Regions from separate parts of the Homo sapiens genome. Here regions 1, 2 and 3 are each reported to be linked to region 4. Evidence: microRNA targets listed by miRTarBase, many of them from high-throughput screens and not tested one by one. Region 4 holds a microRNA gene; each other region holds the end of a gene's coding sequence.

Evidence for each region. The annotated mature microRNA hsa-miR-6088 reads AGAGAUGAAGCGGGGGGGCG and lies in region 4 at 1,477-1,496, opposite strand. An mRNA with a match to its seed (bases 2 to 7 or 8) in the 3' UTR can be bound and repressed. Matches are read on the target gene's strand: a 7mer-m8 pairs with bases 2 to 8, a 7mer-A1 pairs with bases 2 to 7 and ends in A, and an 8mer does both.
Region 1: the mRNA of RAB22A is a reported target of hsa-miR-6088. Seed matches in the 3' UTR shown: 7mer-m8 at 3,056-3,062 and 7mer-A1 at 1,324-1,330.
Region 2: the mRNA of AGAP1 is a reported target of hsa-miR-6088. Seed matches in the 3' UTR shown: 7mer-A1 at 2,096-2,102.
Region 3: miRTarBase lists JAKMIP2 as a target of hsa-miR-6088. The part of its 3' UTR that is shown has no 7-base or 8-base seed match.

Annotation. Positions count from the first base shown.
Region 1 is chr20:58,359,123-58,363,288 of GRCh38, reverse strand. It overlaps RAB22A (RAB22A, member RAS oncogene family), which reads right to left. Exons shown (of 7, transcript NM_020673.3): 7 at 1-3,683. The coding sequence ends at 3,586. Among named protein-coding and RNA genes, the nearest start is that of VAPB, 28 kb to the left of the region's middle.
Region 2 is chr2:236,123,395-236,127,527 of GRCh38, reverse strand. It overlaps AGAP1 (ArfGAP with GTPase domain, ankyrin repeat and PH domain 1), which reads right to left. Exons shown (of 18, transcript NM_001037131.3): 18 at 1-3,609. The coding sequence ends at 3,406. Among named protein-coding and RNA genes, the nearest start is that of GBX2-AS1, 42 kb to the left of the region's middle. RefSeq lists an enhancer at 300-810.
Region 3 is chr5:147,598,149-147,602,314 of GRCh38, forward strand. It overlaps JAKMIP2 (janus kinase and microtubule interacting protein 2), which reads right to left. Exons shown (of 22, transcript NM_001270941.2): 21 at 3,593-3,663. The coding sequence ends at 3,613. The region is part of intron 3 of JAKMIP2-AS1 (JAKMIP2 antisense RNA 1); the gene reads left to right. Among named protein-coding and RNA genes, the nearest start is that of JAKMIP2-AS1, 40 kb to the left of the region's middle.
Region 4 is chr19:45,433,984-45,438,149 of GRCh38, reverse strand. MIR6088 (microRNA 6088) reads right to left here and starts at 1,496; the gene lies at 1,446-1,496. It also overlaps a transcript of ERCC1 not described here.

The sequences.
Region 1 (4,166 bases), not on the chromosome of region 4:
GAAAGAATAAGTGAAAGTACCAAAAAGAATTCTGTAACTCACTCTTAGAATCTAAAAGATGCCTGTAACCATGAGCAAATGCCTTTCTGAGCTGGAGGCTGACATGCCAATTAGTGCAGTGTCGTCGGAATCTAAACTGCTTATTTTAACACAATGCCCTAAAAATACTGACATTTTGGTTTGACAGTTACAGGAAAGTTAGCTAAAGGATATTTTCATTACTATATTTCCCAGAGTTTAATTTAGAAGGCTTCCTAGACCAATTTTCCTCCTTGAGAACAGAAAAGAAATACATACAAGACGTAAAGAGAAGTTCTGAAATTAAAGTTGGTTTCCTTTCCCTTTAGATATTTAAGAATAAGAGGAATTGACAACTTCAAGAAGGACACCAGCCCACATAGAGGAGGCGCTCAAGCCTCTCACACAAAAGTCCCGATCCTTCCAGACATCCAGAAAGTGCGTACACAATGGGAAACAGGGACTTCAAACAACATCATAAACGGGTCACAAGAAAATAAGTTACTTTGAAAAGAACTAAATCTTTCACCTGCTTCGTGTAAAACTTATTCTGACCACGGCTGACAGGCAGGTGATGGACACTTAATCATAATCTTACTTTATGTTCTTTTAATCACCAGATGATGGTTAATTAGTTATCATAGAATCAGAAAAACACTTGTGTGAGAGTTCTGGAGACCATTGGTTTCTAGGATTGGACGCCTGCAAAGAGCTTATTTCAATTTCTCCGAAAAGAATCAACATACAGTAGCAGCTAATTAATAATTTTTCTCTTCTGTTCAGTCCTGAGAGTTTTAAAAAAATGGCCCTGTATCGTAAGAAAACCAAACATGTTTATAGATGGGAGTATGTCTCAATTCCTTTGAAATATAGCCTCTTCTCCATAAGAAATTATTATAAAGAAAATATGAAATGTGTATTAGATCATTGCTTAGTCAGCTTAATAATCCAAAATGTGTTCAAAATGAAACACTGCTTCTGACTTTAGTATTCATCTTTGCATTTTAGAAGCAAATAAAATAAGTGAAAATATTTTTTCCCTGCTTTCACTGAGTATGGATTATGGATCTGAGAGAGCAATTTTTTGTTGTTGTTGCTAAGCATTAGAAGGATATTACACGAGAAACAGTGCCGAGTCAAGTTCTTAGACAGACTGATGAAAATGAGGGAAGAGGCCCGAGAAATGCATAAGTACAAGCTTCATATCACTCATTCTGTTAATAAAACATGTGGCTATAATAAAACAGAATCACACCCTACATATGGGAGGGAGGGTGAGAAATCATGAAATCAGCAAAGGGCTGATGAGATGGACCCACATTGGGCTCGGTACAGTAAAACATCACAGTAAGATCAGACACATCCAGATGCCTCACCAGTTAAGATGAGCTCAGAAGACCTTGCCTTTCCCCATGCACCGAGACACCATGCAATCACCAACAGCTACTGGTGGGTGTGGTGGAAAAAATGTGAAGGTCATAGATTTGCACCATCTTTTGGTAAAATAAGACAGAAAGGGTCGCACATGCTTTGCCTCTTTGGTAATGAGTCAAGCAACCTCTGTTTTTATTTTGTTGTCATGGAGATAGAGGCCCAGCAGTGGGAATTCTAGGGACACACCAGGGTGGTGCCCGGATGCCTGGGATCCATCTGGATGTATACAGAAGAAAGTCAAACTACTTTAGGTGTAAAGCGCCTGGCTCTGGGAATCACATGGCTTCTCTAGGAGCTTGCTAATTTAGCACCGGGGAGGAAGCAAAATCCTAGGGGCATGGAGCATCCACATGTCTTTTAAACAAAACGAAGTTAGAATTTTTACTAATGACATTCTTTTTATATGATTTCAGAAGATAAAAAAAATTCCAAATGCTTAAGATATACAACAGGGAAAAGGGAATTGTTTTTTATTTAATCTGAATTATAATTTTCCCATTAAAATCTATCCATATTAAGTGGGGGGCACAAAATAATACCAATTATTTTTTAAAGTTTCAGCTGTTCAGTTTCAGGATAGCTCTGAAAATACAATTTAGTTTGAAATTCAAGCTGTTTCATTTCCTATTAAATCTTGTAAATTTCCTTCCCCTACAATACTCAGGTTGGAAGGGTGCCAAATTAGACCAGGAACAAATTTTCACCAACTTCACTTCAATGCTTTATTTTTAGATGATATTAAAAACCTCATTAGGCTCCCTGAGGGAAAAGAGTGTTAACCACTAACAGAGGCAGGGGAAAAATAAAGGAAACAGAAAGATAAGCTAAATTGTTAACAAGGAAAGCTCCTCAGTTGGTCTGAGGATGCTGTACAAGCTAAAAGAAACTTATTACCAAGACCAGGTAAATGACTTGAGGTTGGAGCTTAATCTTTTACCCTCAGGCTAGTAAGGACTAGTCAGGTTTGTCAAAGTGGCATATGTCTTTATTATGATTTCCAGATGGGATCTGGTGGGAGGCGGGTGGGTAGAAGGGAAGGCAGAGAAACCTTTAAAGATTGTAAGCTAAGTGCTCTATACCTTTATACAATACCAATGTGCTTGAGTCTCCCGTTAAGAGGCTGAAAACTGGGCAGGCATACGCAAGACTGGGTGCGAGATTCAATGGAATGTCAAATGAAACTTAGAATTTATTAATGTATTTACATAATTTATAATCTTTAAGCAATGGCCCCATAAATATAGACTACAACTTTACATATGCTAAGCAATAGATACTTGCTTTTCCCCACCAAAATACTTGGGTTAAAAAAAAATTGACAGCATTTATACCACCTTCTTCACTTCCACTCTTCTTCCTTTTTAAACCATTGCTAGTCATTTTAGAACATATGAAATTCAGTTTATTCCGGGCAGCTTCTCTACCATCACCATCTTGATCATGAGAGCTTATTTAAAAAGGTGCCAATAACGTGTTTGGTGGCACACACATGACAAGGTCAGAAGCAAACCCAGGATGAGCTAGGCATCTGCTGCTATCATTGTTAATTTACTGTACGTATCCTAGGCTAACATGTTCAATGAAAAGTGCTTTAGAGATGGCAGAGATGAAATCATTTCCATCAGTCCTATAAATAACCCATTTTAGCTTCAGACAATAATTGTCCTCCCTACACTTAAACTATCCTACTATATGTTAAATGATACAACTCCCTCTAACAGTGGTAACAGAAACCAAGGAAATTATAATCTCCACAAGGTCTGTTTCTTTTCCCTTAAGAACCACAAAAGTGCTAATTTTCCCTTTACAAATGTTACATAAAATCTTGATTACAAAACTACTCAACAACTTAATCCTACCATCCATACAATTATATGTTCCTTTTCAGCAAGGTCAAAAGCCAACGATGTAGTCCCTTTGTACACTAGAGATTCTTTACATAATAGAAGTTCACAGACTGAAATATCATTGCTGCAGTCTTTGGAGAACAGAACTGGTCCATTTCTGTGAATCCTTTTTGCACGGAGAAGACTCAAGACTGGCTAGGTGAAAACTGGTGGCAGGGACCCCAGCCCTCCTGTTAACTTTCAGGACCACCTACTTCATCATCAAGTCTGAGAGGCTGAGGTTCGGTCAGCAGCAGCTCCGCTTTGGCTCTGAAGGCTGTCTTCGGAGTTTGAAGCCCTTACCGCCAGATGGCAGGTTGGCGTCAGTGGATGGAATTCTTCGACCTAAACCAAGATGAGAAAAGGGAAGGGAGTGAGCTTTAACTTTCTCAGACACAACAATTTTGCAGATGCAATTTGACAGGTTTCACTGAAGTAAAAAAAAAAAAAAAAAAGTTTAATAAACTTTTTATACTCGAATAATTTTAGATTTATAGAAAAGCTGCAAAGATGATAGAGCTCCTGTGTACCTCCCACCCAGTTTCCCCCAGTGCTGACATATTACCATGGGACATTTGTCAAAATGAAGAGTTCAACATTGCCACATCACTATTAACTCCAGACTTTTTTCAGATAGCATCAGTTTTTCTACATGTCCTGCTTCTGCCCCAGGATCCAAACAAGGATATCACACAGCACTTAGTAAACGTTTTTTAATTAAAAAAAGCCACACATCAAAAACATTTTGTTTTGAGTAGGTAATACATAGGATTTGTTTTTTAAAAAGTTCAGTCAGAACATGGTTGTCCCTCTGTCTCATGACAAGGC
Region 2 (4,133 bases), not on the chromosome of region 4:
TCTGCAGGAAATGCAATTCATTAAGATCCCGCTCTCTCCTGTGTCTGAGAACCCTGCGATTGGCGAGTGACCCGCTGCCTTCTCCCTCCTTTCCAGTGCATATATACATTGTGCACACACTTGGGAGACAGGACACTGCACCTGGTTTTGGGGCCAGTGACTCAGGAACTTGTCACTTGCTCACCCTCGAGCTGCTCATTTCCTGGGATGAAACAGAGAGAGGGACCAGGGACCAGGACTGGGGTGCTGGGCGGGGGAAACCATCTGCCCGTCCCAGCACCTGAGGTCAGAATCACAGAGTACTGTCCCTGCGGGGTGTTTCTGCTGCAGCCAGGTCTGCACCACACCCCTCCACTCCCCGCCAAGTTCAGTCTCCGCGAAGCTGAACGCGGGGGTGCAGATGTGTCCAGATCACCCATGGGGTTACACAGGCCGCTCGTGGGCCTCCCTCAGCTGGCTGTTTCTCATCAAGGGAGAGTTTTAATTCTGAACAGGAAAGGTGAGGGGGATCCTGCAGTGGTGATCTGTCATCGTCACGTCACAGAACTGAACATGGAAATGAACAACGAAAACTCCACCCCCTTCTCAAACGAGTTATTCCTAGCTCCGCCCCCAGTCCTTGCCTCTCCCAGCCTTGGTGGTAATTAGCTTGAAAGTGGGAACGAGAGTGCGGTCCGCAAAGAAAGGACTTCTGGTTAGACACTGAAATACAAACAGACTGCCAACGAGCTCTGGGCAAAGCTGCCCCGTCTTCTTTTTTTCGAAAGACCCTCAAAAACTGCCTTTCCTTCTGCTACCAAAACTTGGGCCCTAGAAAGTGGCTGCGGAGTGGAGCAGATGGACATCACTGAGAATGGTAGAGGAGGGGCTGTGTTTTCTGAGGGGGAGTCATGGCAGCTTGTGCTGGGGGCCAGGAAGGGAAAAAACCAATCTGGCATTCAGGTTGTGGAAGGCAAAGTGAAACAAGAAGTCATTTGGGAAAATATTATATTATAAACACATAGAATAATATGTACACGCTCATATACATCCCAAAGAGAAGCCTCAAGGAGTTCCGTTTCTTCTCAAAAGAAACTTCACTATGATAAAGCATTCCTATAGTGGGAATTAACTACAATGAAATAATTTAACAATTTCATTTATGCTATATCTGTGTCCACTACAGAGTCTACGGTGAAGGCTGTGTGGAGCGAGTGTGTCTAGTGGACTCGAACACCAACGCGTTCTTCAAAAATAGGCAATGACCTGTTTTTTTCTATTCACATTTACAATAGCTACACAGTGATGAAACGCAGACTGAAAAATCAAATGGCAGGACGATGGAACTGTCGTCAAGGTTCTCAGACTTGTGGCTTCTGCACCTGTTATACTTTTGGATACGAGTGAGCTCCACTTAGCTTCGTTAAGATTAGAAATTTCCATGAAACACTTACCCACATATAAATTCTGTGTAAAGCTTTATTTTTTTCCCCACCTACTTTAATTTTTTTTAAAAAGTGAAATAAGAGGAAAAACTCTTATAAAATATAAGGTTTAACATACGAGAGAGCGAGGAACACCCCGGAGGCTGCCGGTGCGTGTGGCTTCATGTTTCTGTGCTACATGAGTCTAGTGTCCTCATCTTCCATTGTGACAACCCTTCTCCCCCCATCACACTGTCAATGAGCTCTAGGCAAAGCTGCCCCGTTTGCTTTTAACCTAAGGGATGCTGTGGTTTGGTTGACTACATTTGACTACCACCACTGAAGGCGGCGGACGTCTGAAGCGGCTGGATACCGCAACGATGGAAAATCAGGCGAGGTACTAGCGTGGAGGGCCGGGCTGCCAGGTCAAGGTCGTCTGGGTTCTCAGGAGCCAGTCTGTGCCACAGAACCATTGGCAGCTGCCTTCGTAAGGCACCTCGGTCTGGCATTCGGAAAACCACCCCATCTTGCCAGAGTCCCTTGGTCCTTGGTTAGCAAAAGCCGTATCCGATCTAAATCATGCTTTCAATCATGAGAGACCACATTCCTTCTTTTTCCTTTCTAATATACTCCAGTGTGTCTTTTTTTTTCTTTCTCAATTTTAATAAGCAAATTGTACCACCATCTTATTCTGAGATGCTCCTTTTCAAAAGCCGTAGATCACATTAATGGAAGTGTTTACTGCTGGGAATATTTTCCATGTACAATGATCTGTAACCCTCTTATCTCAACTAGTTGCACATTATTAGTTCACATCCAGTTCAATTTATAAATTAAGAGAGGTGCCATTTGTCTGTACAAAAATCAATGCATATTTATGAACTTCTTTTATTCAAATATATTTTCACACATCTTATCTAAATACATAACACAGAAGCCTGTGTGACTTGGGCAACGTGGTCCAGGAGGGCCTGAGACTAACACATCCACCTCGGCAAAAGGACATCAAATATCTCTTACAGTCGGAAAAAACAGCCTTTTGTGTATTTCCTTAGTTTACGAAATATACTCGAAATGCTATTATTAGCTGAATTTGTGGTTTCCTTTTGAGTTTCTGAGTTATTCTTATTTATTTTTCCCATTTTGTTTTTGCACCAAGGAGACCGGAGTCAAATAATACTCAGCGACTGATTTCCTCTCTTTGGACTGAAAAATTAAACAGATACTAAATGATGACAGTGAATTTAGAGAGGGCTCCAAGGGCTTGAAAGAACATGTCTGGGATAATATGGTGCTTCTAAGAGTATTGCAATCACATCGTGGCAATCACCGGCGCGTGCCGCGTGACTACCTCCTCGGCTAATATGCTTTCTTCTCGGCGATGACTAATCACGTTCTATTAAACAGCAGTAATGCGGGAAGAACTCGGCTGTACAAGTGTAATGAAGCCAGTATTCTCCCTGGACAGATTAGCTACAACTGATTTGACACACACCATCATAGGGGCTTCAAACCTGACAAACTCTGTGCTTGCTTCTGATTTATGCCGTCGAGCTCCTCAGAGAAGAGATGGAATCCAAGTGTTCCGTTTGGTAGAGGGGAAATGTACTATGTGCTCAACTGCCAGTTAAGGAAAGTTGCCCCTTCTCCTTGTTCCTCGCCTCCCCTCCCCCTCGCGTCCCCATCCCTTGTGCCACCAGGACAAGGGTCCTGCGCCATGTGCTATCATCAAAGGGCCGAGGCCCGTCGCTCTCTCCTGTGTGTGGTTTAGGGGAGTTTATGAAAAGGAGCCACTTCTGCAGTCTCCCGGCCGCCTCTTCGCCCCTTGAGGGATGTCCAGGTTTTGTGATTTTGTTTGGGGTGAGAGTGGGTGGGCGGGAGGGAGGTGGCCACCAGGAAGAGGGAGGGGATGCGACGGGACTCACGTGCTGCGACTTCTGAGCGAGAATGCGGCGAGGCTGCCGCGTCCCAGGTGCGGCGAGCAGGCGGGCACGGCTGTTCCTCAGATGATGGTGGGCACCCTCCCACTGCTGTTGTTCCGGTTATTGTTTCTCCTGGACAGGTTAGGGGTGGCCATGAGCACGAAGCGCTCGTCGGGGCAGCCGTACTGCAGCAGCACGTCGATGCACTCCTGGCTGGAGGCCTGCCGGGCGTAGGCCAGAGCTGTGTTCCCGTGGGCATCTCGGGCCGTGACGTCCACTCCGTACTGCGGAGGTAAGGGAGCCCACATTAGTATCATGGGGGATGTGATGGAGGGAGGGGGCAGGGAAGCTTTCTCTCAGCCCTTGCATGTGGCTTGTGCTTGGACAGCGGGGCCAGCTACACAACTGGCTGGGGTGCCAGGACCATCCAGTGCTGGTGGCACAGCCTGCACCCGTGGCCAGCGGATTCTTTTAAGGAAAGAACATGTCTTTTTTTTTCAACTGAAAGCCCCTCCTTTGTGCAACATTAAGGAATCAAAGATAACTTTAGTTTTGCTGTTTCTATTTTGACTTTCCAATTGCACAAAGAAAATCATTGTTTTGATCTCAGAATTTTCATTATAGGAAATACACAAATAACACATAACAGCTCAAGAAGAAAAAAAATCACCCATAATCTTACTACTTAGAGATAACCTTTGTGAATTAGTGTATTTCCTTTCAATGAGTTTTCTTTGAATCTACATGTATATGTACATAATTGAGATAAGACTGTACAAATAATTTGTATTTTTTTCATTTTTTATTG
Region 3 (4,166 bases), not on the chromosome of region 4:
CGCCACCACGCCTGGCTAATTTTTGTATTTTTATTAGAGACGCGGTTTCACCATATTGGCCAGGCTGGTTTTGAACTCCTGACCTTGTGATCTGCCAGCCTCAGCCTCCCAAAGTGCTGGGATTACAGGCGTGAGCCATCAGCGGTTCTTGGGTTTCTGATTTGAACAGAGCCATGTTGCTTCTCTGGTTCTCCAGCGTGCAGATGGCTTACCATGGGACTTCTCCACCCCCATAACCAGGTGAGCGAATTCTCTTAATAAAGCCGCTCTCATTTTCATCTATCTATCTATCTATCTATCTATCTATCTATCATCTATCTATGTATCATCTATCTATCTATCTATGCTATTGGTTACCTCTCTGGAGAACCTGACTAATACATTGATATGCCATTCGTTTGGAAAACCAGAATGCATAGCCAGATAATATCTTCTGGAACTACTTGGAGTCCCCTTGTTTAAAGTAAAAGTCCTGATATAATCCATGCAGTTATTTAGTCAATGCCAGCACTGAGTCCAGTAAGGGTGCCTTCTAGGGAGCGTTCGATGGCTTCTATATCATTACTGACAATAATGACTTAGGCAATTACTAAAAGAAAAAAAGTAGGAGTCTCTCCATTTTAAGGAGGACTTTGTCATTTAAGCTAGTCTTGGGTTTATGAACACAATACAAATCATTAATTTAGTATGGAAAAAAATTTATCGTAATTTGCAGTAAGCTTTCACTACCTACCAATAAAGAAGCACTTTTTCCCTTACTTCTTCCTATTTCTATCTTGCCAACTTTGGAGACATAAGTAGCATTGATCAGTTTTCAGTGATGTTTTATTCCCTAATATTATTTAAAGCCAGATTATTCCCTGAGAAGAGGAGATGAAAAAGCAACTATTTGTTTGGGTTTAGGCTGAAAACTACTTGGCAGTACTAGAGGTTATAATTTTGAATTTAGTATAATTTTGTATACTAGAATACTAGTATAATTTAGTGTAATTTTGAATTCAGTAAATGTGGTAGCTAATTTTTAAATCTAATAATAGCTAAGAGTTACTGATTAATGATTTTCCAGGCACTGTTATGCCTTTGACATGCATAACCTCGTCTCATTCTCTCAACACAACACCCTGCTGTAGGTAACATGATTATAACCATTTTGTGGAATAGGAAACCTAATCTTGGGTGGATTAAATAAACTGCCTATCATCACACAACTAGTAAATGGCAGGACTCAAGCTTTAAATTATATCTGACTTGTAAGCTGTGCACTCTAACCTCTCAGCCATTTTACTGCATATGCAATATATTTATTGCCCAGATTCACTGTCACATTCATCGGCTATATTATTAATTATCATTATAGTCATTCACTTAACAGACAATTACTAAGTGTCATTTATGTGCTACTTTGGAGGAAAAACATCAAATCTTGTACATCCCTCAAGGAGTTACACAAAATGGGAAAAGGTACAGAGACGAGCACACTGTAATTTCAAAAGCCAGTAGCTAAGTAGTACTATACAAATAGATGACGCTTCTGATGAGGATACATATGAACGCCAATGTTGCTTGAAACATGGGAGAAAGGCCCTTTTTTACTTGTGAGGCAGTTTGGTGGTTAGAAGTGGATTCTGGGCTGAGGCTGCCTGGGTACAAATTGGTAGCTGGATGGTCTTGGGAAAGTCACATGCTGTAGTTTCTCCAACTACAAATTAGGGATAAAAGCAATACCTATCCCACAGGGGATTTCATGAGGATTAAATGTATCTATTACTTAGAACAGCTCCCAGGACATAATCAGCTTTGGCCAGCATTGATGTTAATGCTGAAGCCTATCCATTTTCTACCTAGTACTTACAAGGTTTGATATTTCTTCTGTAAACCACCATGTATTACTTGTCTCTTACTGAAATTTATTTTCCCTACTTTTAAAATTTATTTACTGTTTTTTTTTTTTTTTTTTTTTTTTGGTGGGGGGAGGCTGTTTGTTTCCTGATACTCTGGTCATTTTGATCCTTTACTAGTGAATCTCCCTCCACTTCAATTTGGATATTCCCATTCAATTTAAGAGACTTAGTCCTCTTCTTTCCATCCTACAAGGCTGTCATCTTTCTTGACAGACAAAGGATAGTGGTCAATCTGAAAAGAAAATATTTTGGAAGAAAGAATATAGCCAGAGAGTGAGTTATGAGTTCATATATTTTCTGAGCATATCTACTTAACTCTTTGCTTGTATCAGGTTATTCTAAAGCACTTTTACTTGTCTGTTCCATATCCAGGTAACAGATCTCATACCTATGGAGGGAGAAAGTGCCTCTCTTCTGTTTTCCAACTTGCTGTAGAAAATGTTAAATCACCTGAGGTCCAGGAAAGATCTCAGGCTAATATAATTTAATAGGATAATCAGAGTTGACATGAACCATGATAAATGGATTTAGAATAGCCGCTGGCCCTTCTTCTTTTTGAACAGTGGTATTGAGATTTGTGGTTTCCCTATTTGGCCGGCCATCAGAATCACATAGCGTGCTTGTTAAATACAGACCAGTCCTTGCTCTCATCTCTCCCACCCTCTCTCTATCTCCCTCTATCTCCAGTGATCTGACTCAGCAAGTCTGAGGTGGGGCTTAAAAATCTATATTTTTAAGCACTGGGAATCACTAAGATTATTTATGCATGTATTCATGAGACATGGACTTAATAATAGTAATTATAAGACTCTCCTTTTTGTTTTCTATATTGACATTGAAAAGTAACTTATTTGAAAACAAGATCCACTTAGCCTGCTTTCTTGAGTTTTAATGAACTCCCTAGTCTCTACTGGGGAAAAGGGGTGAAAAAAACAGCAGTCATTACTAGCTTGTTAGATTAGCAGAATCAGAATTTTCAAGCTGAACGCAACACTAAAGATAACGTCATTATTTATTCACTTTGCAGATACAGATGCAACTTTCTGCATAATGGGAGACTATGATGAGAATGCTAACAACCACAGACATTGTGACTTCCCAAAGTAATACAGTTAACTGGAACAGATTCTTGATTCCCAGAATATTTGGTTTCTTCACTTTTCTAATAATCACCCAAATAGACTGGATCTATTTCTCAATTTATGGCATTTATGCTAACCAAAGCAAGTGTGTTTGTATTTTAAAAATATAGCATAGTTAAAATATATAGACCAGGCCTGATGGCTTGGTCAACACTTTGGGAGGCTAAGGCAGGAGGATTGCTTGAGCTCTGAAGTTCAAGACTACCCTGGGCAACAAAGTGAGACCTTGTCTCTACTAAAAATAATAATAAAAAAAAATTAGCTGAGCATGGTGACACATGCCTGTAGTCCCAGCTACTCAGGAGGCTGAGGTTGGAGGATCGCTTTGAGCCTGGGAGATTGAGGCTGCCAGTGAATGATCTGATTGTGCCACTGTATTCCAGCCTGGGTGACAGAACAAGACTCTGTCTCAAAACAAAACAAAACAAAACAAAACAAAACAAAACAAAACAAAACAAAAAACTAAAGAAAGGCATAGTAACTATAGGTAACATCCTTTTTATCAAATACCTCTTAGAACCACATTTTGAGAATTAAATGGAATCTTACCTTTAAGAGGCACCTTGACATCAAGGCCATAGAATAAAGGCAAGAGAGAAGAACAAGAATAGAAACAGAAACTGCAGAAGAAAAAGAAGAAGATTATGTAAATCTGAATTTCTGTAGTGCCATTCAGGTAGTACAAAACCTCAGCTTTTCCATATTGCTCAAGTCTAATCACTTCACACATGAACATCAAGCACCTTTTTGTTTAAAAAAATCCACACCTTTTATGTAGCTACTGACAGAGTATCAGTGTTCAACTAACATTGATTCATACATTTTAGAATCATGAGGTGGTCTTACGAACAATTGGTCTAAGCTCCTAATTTTACAGATAAGAAAAATAAGCACAGAGCAGTAAATCAATAGTTTAATTTCATACAATTTTATGGCACAGTGAGGGCTAAAGCTTAGCTAGCCTGAATCCTACTTTATTATATATCACTGTCTCTTTCATGCACAAGAGGGTATTTCAAAAACACAAAATACGATCAGAACATACACTTAATCATGCAGTACTATCTTTTTTGGTTACTATGATAGGTTTTAGGATTAAGGCACAGCTGGGAGAATATTAATC
Region 4 (4,166 bases):
TCACGAGGTCAGGAGATCGACACCATCCTGGCTGACACGGTGAAATCCCATCTCTACTAAAAATACAAAAAAAATTTAGCTGGGCGTGGTCTCACACGCCTGTAGTCCCAGCTACTCGGGAGGCGGAGGCAGGAGAATCACTTGAACCCAGGAGGCAGAGGTTGCAGTGAGCCGAGATTGTGCCACTGCACTCCAGCCTGGGCAGCAGAGCGAGACTCCGTCTCAAAAAAAAAAAAAATCAGATGAGAACACGTAGTGACAAAAAATAAAAAATAATATTTACAAATTTAAAAAATTTAAACTCTATTTTAGCAACTTTGAAATACACAATACATTAGTATTAACTGTGGTTACCATGCTGTGCAATAGATCACTGAAATATATTTCTCCAGTCTCGCTGAAACTTTGCACCCTTTGATCAACATCTTCTCTTTTCCCAACCCTCTCCCACTTCCCTGGACTCTAGTAGCCACCTTTATACTGTTTCTATGAGCTCGACTTTTTAAGATTCCATATAAAAGTGGGATCATGTGGTGTTTGTCTTTCTGTGTCTGGTTTATTTCACTTAGAATAATGTCCTCCAGTTCCATCCATGTTGTCTTGAATGGCAGAATTTCCTCCCTTTTCAAGGCTGTATAGTATTCCATCGTGTGTATATGCAACATTTGCTTTATCCATTATGTCCCTTGATGGACACTTAGGTTGACTCCATATCTTGGCTATTGTGACCAGTGCTGCAATGAACTTGAGAGTGTAGATAACCCTTCGACATCCTGATTTCAATTCCTTTGGAAATATAACCAGAGGTATATGAGTCTGCTAGATCCATATGTACGATTTTATTTTTACTTATTATATATATATATACACACACACATATATATTTTCTTTTTCTTTTTTGAGATGAAGTCTTGCTCCTGTCGCCCAGGCCGAAGTGCAGTGGCGTGATCAAGGCTCACTGCAACCTCTGCCTCCTGGGTTCAAGCGATTCTCCTCCCTCAGCCTCCTGAGTAGCTGGGATTACGGGCGTGTGTCACAACGCCTGGCTAATTTTGTATTTTTAGTGGAGATGGGGTTTCACCATGTTGGTCAGGCTGGTCTCGAACTCCTGACCTCAGGTGATTCACCCACCTTGGCCTCCCAAAGTGCTGGGATTACACGCGTGAGCCACTATGCCCGGCCCTTATTTTATATTTTAAAGTCTCACTATATTGGAATCCACTATATATGGAGTCTCACTGTATGGCCCAGGTTGATCTCCAACTCTTGGTCTCACGGGGTCCTCCCACCTCAGCTTTCCAAGGAGCTGGGATTACAAGTGCAGGCTACCATGCCTGGCTGTCACACATGTCGTTTTAAATGTTTAGGCCAGGGTGGCTCACACTCGTAATCTCAGCCCTTTGGGAGGCCAAGGCGGGCAGATTGCAATGTCAAGGCCAGGAGTTTGAGATCAGCGTAGGCAATAGAGCAAGACCCCGCCCCCCCGCTTCATCTCTACAAAACTATTTTTGTTTGTTTGTTTGTCTGAGACGGAGTCTCACTGTCACCCAGGCTGGAGTGCAGTGGCGTGATCTCGGCTCACTGCAAGCTCCGCCTCCTGGGTTCACGCCATTCTCCTGCCTCAGCCTCACGAGTAGCTGGGTCTACAGGCGCCCGCCACCATGCCCGGCTAATTTTTTGTATTTTTAGTAGAGACAGGGTTTCACCATGTTGACCAGGATAGTCTCGATCTCTTGACCTCGTGATCCGCCCGCCTCGGCCTCCCAAAGTGCTGGGATTACAGGCGTGAGCCACGGCGCCCGGCCGAATTTCTCTTGTTTTAAGTCACTGAATTGGGGATAATTTGTTATAGTAGCCGTTAAGAAACTAATGCAATCTGTTTGAGCTTCTGTCCCCTCCACGCTAACGGCAGAGTTTCTGAGGCTTTTAGAGAACATCTTTTCCAACCCTTCCACATAGGGAAGGAAACTGAGGCTCAGAGAGAGGATGGAGACTGAAGGAGACCTCAGGCTTCCCGCTCTTCATCCAGGCTCCGTGGGTCACTGTGGCAATTTACAGATATTTTTCCCGTTTTAAAAAAAATAGGCTGGGCACGGTGGCTCATGTCTGTAATCTCAGCACTTTGGGAGGATGAGGTGGGCAGATCAACTGAGGTCAGGAGTTCAAGACCAACCTGGCCACCATGGTGAAACCCCGTCTCTACTAAAAATACAAAAAATATTAGCCGGGCATGGTGGTACATGTCTGTACTCCCGGCTACTTGGGAGGCTGAGACTTGAGAGAATCGCTTGAATCCGGGAGGCAGAGGTTGCAGTGAGCCAAGATTGCGCCACTGCTCTCCACCCTGGGTGACAGAGTGAGACTCCATCTAAAAAAAAAAGTACAGAATGTGGACTGAACATGGAGGCTCACACCTGTAATCCCAACACTTTGGGAGTCCAAGGCAGGAGGATCCCTTGAGGCCAGCAGTTTGAGATCAGCAGCCTGGGCAACATAGCGAGACCCCATCTCTACACAAAAATAGCCAGCTCTGGCGGTGCACACCTATAGTCCCAGCTACTTGTGAGGCTGAGGTAGGAGGTTTGCTTGAGCCTAGGAGTTTGAGGCTGCAGTGAGCTGTGATCACCACACTGCACTCCAACCTGCGTAACAGAATAAAGGTCTCAAAACAAAAACAAAAAGGCCAGAATGTTTATTGAGTTTTCTTTTAAGGCTGAGACAGAGCACAAGGTTTGGTTGGAGTCCTAGTTTGTTTGTTTACCTGCTATGTGGCCTTGGATAAGAGTCTACCTTCCCTGTGCCTCAGTTTCTCCCTCTGTAAAATGGGCATGGTGAGATAAGTCATCTCAGAGGGTTGTAGTGTGGAGGGCTGCTGTGAGAATCAATGTTACTGTGCGGCATAGTCCTGGAAGTGTTTGAAATGCTGTAAAATGGGCCTGGCACAGTGGCTCATGCCTGTAATCCCAGCACTTTGGGAGGCCAAGGTGGATGGATCATGAAGTCAGGAGTCTGAGACCAGCCTGGCCAACATGGGGAAACCCCGTCTCTACTAAAAATACAAAAATTTGGCCAGGCACCATGGCTCATGCCTGTAATTGCAGCACTTTGGGAGGCTGAAGCAGGTGGATCACCTGAGGTCAGGAGTTTGAGACCAGCCCGACCAACGTGGAAAAACCCCATCTCTACTAAAAAAAAAAATACAAAAAATTAGCCGGGCGTGGTGGTGCATGCCTGTAATCCCAGCTACTCAGGAGGCTGAGACAGCAGAATCGCTTGAACCCAGGAGGCAGAGGTTGCAGTGAGCCAAGATCGCACTATTGCACTCCAGCCTGGGCAACAAGAGCGAAACTCTGTCTCAAAAAAAACAATAAAAATAAAAATAAAAAAATTTTTAAAAAAGGCCGGGTGTGGCAATGTTCGCCTGTAGTCCCAGCTGCTCGGGAGGCTGAGGCAGGAGAATTGCTTGAACCCGGGAGGCGAAGGTTGCAGTGAGCTGAGGTCGTACCACTGCACTCCAGCCTGGGTGACAGAGCAAGACTCAGTCTCGGAAAACAAAAGCAAAAACAAAAAAATGCTGTAAGACAAGAAAAATAAATGAGATGCAACGATTGGAAGGCAAGAGAGAAAACTGCCAGATAGATTCTCTTTTCTTTTTTTTGAGATAGGGCTTTACTCAGTTGCCCAGGCTGGAGTGCATTGTCATGATCATGGCCCTCTGCAGCCTTGACATTTTTGGGCTCAAGTGATCCTCCCACCTTAGCCTCCCGAGTACGTGGGACTACAGGCACATGCCACCAAGCCATGCGATTTTTTTTTTTTTTGTATTTTTTGGAGAGACACGGTGTTTCACCATGTTGCCCAGGCTGGTCTCAAACTCCTGGGCTCAAGCGATCTGCCAGCCTTAGCTTCCCAAAGTGCTGGGATTACAGGTGTGAGCCAGGGCACATGGACAGGTCTCTTCTTCTTCTTCCTCTTTTTTTTTTTTTTTTTTTTTGTGTGTGTGTGTGTGTGAGACATTCTTGCTGTTGGCCAGGCTGGAGTGCAGTGGCACAATCTCGGCTCACTGCAACCTCTGCCTCTCGGGTTCAAGTGATTCTCCTGCCTCAGCCTCCTCCCGAGTAGCTGGGACTACAGGCGCATGCCACCATGCCTGACTAATTTTTGTG